Linked DNA regions of Homo sapiens: region 1 is linked to region 2. Evidence: fine-mapped expression QTL. A gene starts in region 2. The other region holds a variant in brackets. All regions are shown on one strand. Distances are from middle to middle.

Region 1 (2,897 bases), 91 kb before region 2:
TAAATGCTATCACACTGTGTATGGTACTCAGCTTCCTTTTTCACTCAGCACCACACTGTTGAGTTCTATCCATGATAATTCCTGTGGATCTAGTACATTCCTTTTAACTGCTGTAACCCTATTTTATTGTAACTGTTCTGCACTAAAGTCCCTTGCGGGATTCTGTTTGTGTTGCAGTGGCCCCAGAGTTGGGCAGGCTGGGGACTGAAGCTGCTGCCCTAGGATGCAGAGCCTGACTCCCCAAGAGGCCTTCCTTGTAACAGCAGGAGCACCATTATCCTCTGCTGGGGCTCAGTGGGCTGAGCTGATCATGGTTCTTGGGATTTTCTCCCTAATCTCCCACCAATGATGGCAAATGAGATTTGGCAGAGTGGGAGTTTTCCAGGAAATAAATAGGGTGAGAAGTCAGAGTTCCCTTTCTGCCATTGGCACTTGTTTGTAGAGCTTTGTTTGTAGAGGTTCCCCCAGGAAGGGAGCAGGGAAGTCAGGGAGTGGGTAAGGAGACTGAGCTCAAGTTTCCACATACTTTTTCCCTTTGCTTTGTTCTTTCCTCTACTTAGGCTCATAACCTTTGGGACTGAACTCAGTGTTGATCTTATGGAAGCCATTGGCCCAGGAAGCTCAGGTCCTGAAACTGGGTTCCCAAGCCATCTTGTTGGAGTGTTAGGGTGGCAGGAGAGAGATGGAAATCCACCAGGAATGCAGATGTCCCGACAGGGAGGGAGGGAAGGTAGGGGGAGGTGTTTCATAGTTGCCGAGGGTGAAAACTACCTTGCAGAGCTGCCTTGTGCCTCCTGGGTTTTTTCCACCTCTGGAGAGACAGCTTCCAACCCTGAAATGTGTCACGAGGACACAGTCCCCTGATTGCTACTTTTCTGTCTGGATTTATTGTGTCTGGAGGATGGGCTGCAGGACACATGTTGGCAGCTGTTCGAGCTGCTGTGTGCTTCAGCTTTTGCCCAGAAACTCCTCAGAGGTGGTGGTGTAGGAGAACAAATGCTTTCCCCATGATGTCAGTTCTCAGGCAAGGGGAAAGGCTTTGGAGCCAGAGCGTTCTAGCTGTATGACCTGGAAGCAGTAACCTGACATTCCTGTTGTGGTTCCTTCTCCAAGGCAGTATTGTGAGAGTTCATTGGGAACACCTGCCATCAGCCATTTCCTGAGCCCCTCTCATGGGCACCCCATATGCAAGGTGAATGAGGTGCCTATTCTGCTCTGAGGATGGCAAGGTAGTGAGATGGTGTCTAGTAGAGCTTCTGAAACACAGCAGGCCCTCAGTGACTGTCCCTCCTTTTCCTGTCTGAGGTATTGTGACCTCCACACCACAAGGACAGGGACATTGGCATTGTGCCCTGTATGGGGAAGGGGTGGGGGCTTAGCCTCTTCCCAAGGGTCTGCATGGTACCAGATGCCAGCCCAGATGGGCCACTTCACAGCTACCCTTTCTTTCTTGGCAGGTGGCTGTTACAGGTGCCAGTGGCAGAACAGGGTGGGCAGGGGGGCTAGTGACTTGGTCCAGGTCACACAGCTACAAAGCAATTCAAGTAGAAGGACATCCTTTTAGCCATTGCCTTTTACTTCAGCACATTTGCCACAGAATCCCATCTTGAAGGGGATGTGATGGAGTCACTTGGTTGGTCCCGTGTTTGACCCTGCACTGTGATGCTTTCCACTGTATTTCACCCATTGATGATCTCCCACTTCCTGTGTGGTC[AT/A]TTTTTTTTTTTTTTTTTTTTCCTGAGAAGTGTCTAACAGAGCACTGGGTAGCACATTGCTCCCTTATTTCAGTCCTGGGGCCATTGCTACAGGGTTTTCACATAAACAAGCACCCACTGGAGAGACATCCAAGGGCCGGCTCAACCTGGCTGGATGAGAACATGAGGCACTTCCTGCAGGCCACAGCAGCTGCCCTTGCCAGAGACTAGTGCCTGCAGACTCATCCCCTCTCACTGGCCCCTGAGGTCAGGCAAGAAGAGACTTTGGCTTCCCTGCTATCAATCCAGGACCACAGAGAGGAGGGATCAGAGACCTGGGCTGCTCAGAGCAGCTCTGTGGGCTTGCACATGCAGGCTTCTCTCTAGCTTCCAGCCCAGAGTTCTGGAATCAGGGGTCATGAATTTGGCTGGCAGCTGACCAGTATTGGAAAGTAGTGCCTCTTAAAAGGTGACCCTCTTTTCCTTCCTTCCTAGCTAGCTGTTTCCTTCCTTCAGGCTGTGAGAGGGTGGCTGGAGGTGCTTGCTGCAAATGCAGACTCCCAGTCAGTGGCTCTTAAGTGGGGCTCAGGAATTTGCCCTTCTACAAGTACTCCACATCTGTCTTAAAGAGCACAGAGGAGATGGTGGGAAGTCCTCTTGTACCCCAGGGGTACACACCCTCTCCTGTGCAGTGGAACTGGGTGCTAAATACATGCCCTCTTCAGTGCCGTAGGGCTGGGTGCTGAGTGTTAGTAAATGTCCTCTCCAGTGCTGTGGAGCAGGGTGCTAGGTGAATCTGCATTAGATGCTGCAGGGGGAAAGCAGAAAAAAGTACCCTGGTTGACATGGGGTGACCTGAGTTTAAGTCCTGCTCTATGCCTTGCTTGGTGGGCGCTTTTGAGAAACCCCTAGGCCTTTCTACACTTCGGTGTCACCAGCTGTGAAATGGTGAGGGCATTTCTGTGTCTTGGTTGTTAAGAGGAGTATAAACTTGCAAATAGGTCGGCAGAGCTTTGTACAGGAAAAAGTCTGATCCCTGGGCAGGTTCAGGCGTAAGGCCAGCCCAGTCTCATGATCTTCTTACAGATGGAGGGCCGGCGCGACAGCATGCTAGAGACAGCCAAGCACTGTTTCACATCAGCAGCCCGCTGCGAGGGTGATGGTGACGAGGAGGAGTGGCTCATCCACTACATGCTGGGCAAG
Region 2 (2,897 bases):
GTGCCCTGAGCGCCATTGTGGGTTAAGGGACTTTCTCCCCTCTGGAGACAGTCCCTGAGAAGCTGAAGGTCTTGGGGGCCTCTCACCAAATGTCTTTGGGAGGTGGGAAAACATCAAATGCGGGTGTGGCTTCCCTGGAACAGCTCTGTGTGGGGACTCAGGAGCCAAGTCCCCCAGCACACGCCTCTAACACTTTCAGTAGGGGCCACCTCTCTGGAGCCACGGGTGGCTGCCAACACCCTGTGGTTCCCAGCAGGCACCACCCAGGCAAGAGAGAGAACAGGCCGGGGAACAATGGGCTGGCCTGGCCGCAAGCGCTGGGGCAGATCACAGACCGGATGGCCTAAGCTCATGCCCTGGGGCCACCTCTGACTCCCTGCAAGTGTGGCAAGGGTCCCTTTTGGACACCTTGAGAAGCTGCAGCTGGGAGAGGACCACCCGCCTGTCTGGATGTCCAGCCCAGGTGTCAGGGTCCAAATGACCAGTCCCAGGCCGCAGCCCTTACCACCCGCCCTGGCTGCAGGGGCTCCCAGAAGCCACCAAGGGCCTGGCTCGGCCTTGCCTATCCGCATCTGAGCTTCAGTTTCCTCATCTGCTCAAGAAGGGAGGTGAATACTGATTAAATTATGCAAACTCTTAGCGGCAGGATTAGGTGTGGCTGGGACAGCCAAGGCTCCCCAGGGTGGTGGCATCTCTGGAGCCCGGGGATGGGCCCTGTCTCCCTTCCGGGCCCCCCGCTGGGCTTGGGTACCTTCTCTCCCCTTCCTCCTTCCTCCCTCCAGAGGGGACCCCTGCAGAGCTGCCTCCGCCCCAGGGCTCAGCCTGTGTCTGACCCAAACAGCTCCTGCCTCCCCCTGAGGATGAGTTGGGTGCACCTCCTTCCTGCAGGAAGATGAGGGCTAGAGATGGAGGTCTATGTCAGGGCCACAGAGTCTGGAATCCTCCCTGGAGCTAAAACAGCCCTGCCTTATTCACCCTGCGCATCCCATCCTCTGCTTCAGCCCCGCCGGGCTCGCCCTGCATGCAAGGCGGGGCTGGGACCCAGGGTCTGAGCTTCGCCCTCTGGACATCCGGCTCATCGCCTGCCAAAGGTCCTGTGGCTGGAGGCTCCGGCCTCCTCACCCTCCCACAGGGTCCCAGGGCCGATCCAGGCCTGCGGGCCAGGAATGTGCTAACGGGGCAACTTGGGCCTTGCTGGTCCACGCAGGCACCTGTGGACTTTGAGAGGGGACTGGGTGGGGAGGGGCGGGGAGGGGCGGGGCGGGGCGGTGCCGCAGAGTGCAGGGCGGGCGGGGCCAGGCCAGCAGGGAGTGAGCTTGTCTGGCCGCCTCGCCTCGGAGCCACTGCACTGCTGGCTGCAGACACAGGCTGCACCATGAAGCCAGCCCTCCTGCCCTGGGCCCTGCTGCTGCTGGCGACAGCCCTCGGCCCGGGCCCCGGACCCACAGCAGGTATGCCTCCCTGCCCTTCTGTGTCCCCGTCTGTCTGTCCATCTGTCTGCAGCCAGGCCTGGGCTGACATCCCTCTGGGCTCAGCCTCTGTCCATCTGTCAGGCCATCTGTGGCTGTGCTAGGGGTGATGGGAAGAAATTCTGAGGGTCCATGTGGAGGGGCAGCCCATGGGGATGGGAGGTCTGAGCCGGGCCCACCCTAAACCTGCTGGTAGCTAGGAGGGAGGCGGGGGAGACCAGCAGAGGCCTCCGCCTGTGTCCCCAGCCCTGACAGGGCGGGATCACGGAGGGGGAGCCAGGATTGTGGGTCCTCATCAGGGTGGGGCTGAATCCAGGAAAGTCTAGGGAAAGCCCCGAACTCCAGAACCAGGACACTGGTCCCAGGCTGCCCCCCGTCCCCCACCCCATTTCCCATCGACCCTCTTGCCACTTATCTCACTTGCAAGCATCTCTCGGCCTCCTCCCCCGACCCCTGTGCGCCACCAAATCCTTGGCCAGTACATATTTATTGTTGCTTTTAAGTGCCAGGCACTGCACTTGGTGAAGTGGGGCCAGCGGGGTGGCTCAGGCCCAGGCCTGGCCCTCGACTGGCCTCTTTTGATGGGGGATGGGGAAGGGCCAGGGAAGTGCAATTCCAGCCTGGGTGCATGCACCTGCCCCAGTCCCTCCCTGCAACCCTTCCTTCATGCCAGCCCCTGGAAATATGGCCTTGCCCACCGGTCTTATGGCCCATAGGAGAAGTTTTGGGCCCGGCGCCCACAGCCCCTTGTGGTGTGCACCCCCACTTCCCTTTCCCCACTGCTGGGACCCCTGCTTGAAATGTCCCTCCTCTCCCCAGAAAGGAGGGGAGCGGCCCTGGCCTTCTGCCCTGAGCACGGAGCTCTCTTTGGGGTCTCAATTGCAGCCCCTGGGAGAGCGAGAAGTGTCACGTTCAGACCCTGCACCATTCCCTACCAGGCCTCAAATGAGACTCTTGGCAGCCATATCCCCCACCCCAGTCCAGGCAAGCAAGAGGGGTTCTTCTGCAGGCTTCAGGGCCCCCAGAAGGCGTGCTGACCACAGACACCCTGGGGAGCCAAGAGAGGTCGAGGGCTCCAGCTACCGTGGCCCACTGAGGACCCCTGCCTGTGGGATAGAGGACTTGGTGGCTGAAGGGCAGTCATGCCCAGGGGCTTCTCCTGACCCTGCAGGGCTGAGCGGATGCAGCTTTTTGCCTCTTCTCGCTGCATTCTAGCCCGTCAGTCAGGGCAACAGCCAGATGGTCTGTGCTAAGATTCATCCCATCCCCACGGGCCCTGTGGCTTTCTACTGTGTCCACCTGGTGGCCTGTGCAGTTCCTGGCCAGCGTTCTCCTGGGGATGCTGCTGTCTAATGGGCTGTGGGAGAAACAGAGACAGGCCCTGCACATGGGGCAGCCAGTCCAGTACCCGCCGGGCCAGGCCCTCAG

Alleles and levels. Alleles are on the strand shown, and positions count from the first base shown. SD is a standard deviation of normalised expression in the study named.
For the expression in Th2 cells of the gene that starts at base 1,343 in region 2, AT is the low allele of the variant in region 1 and A is the other (large effect, 0.92 SD a copy in Schmiedel 2018).

What was found. PIP is the estimated chance that this variant, and not a neighbour inherited with it, causes the effect.
Region 1: its variant is fine-mapped to the expression of SUSD2 in Th2 cells (Schmiedel 2018, PIP 0.95).

Annotation. Positions count from the first base shown.
Region 1 is chr22:24,088,803-24,091,699 of GRCh38, forward strand. It overlaps CABIN1 (calcineurin binding protein 1), which reads left to right. Exons shown (of 37, transcript NM_012295.4): 24 at 2,781-2,897. Among named protein-coding and RNA genes, the nearest start is that of CABIN1, 79 kb to the left of the region's middle. RefSeq lists an enhancer at 2,473-2,897. The variant AT/A (reference allele first, on the strand shown) is at 1,715.
Region 2 is chr22:24,180,145-24,183,041 of GRCh38, forward strand. SUSD2 (sushi domain containing 2) reads left to right here and starts at 1,343. Exons shown (of 15, transcript NM_019601.4): 1 at 1,343-1,451. The coding sequence starts at 1,376.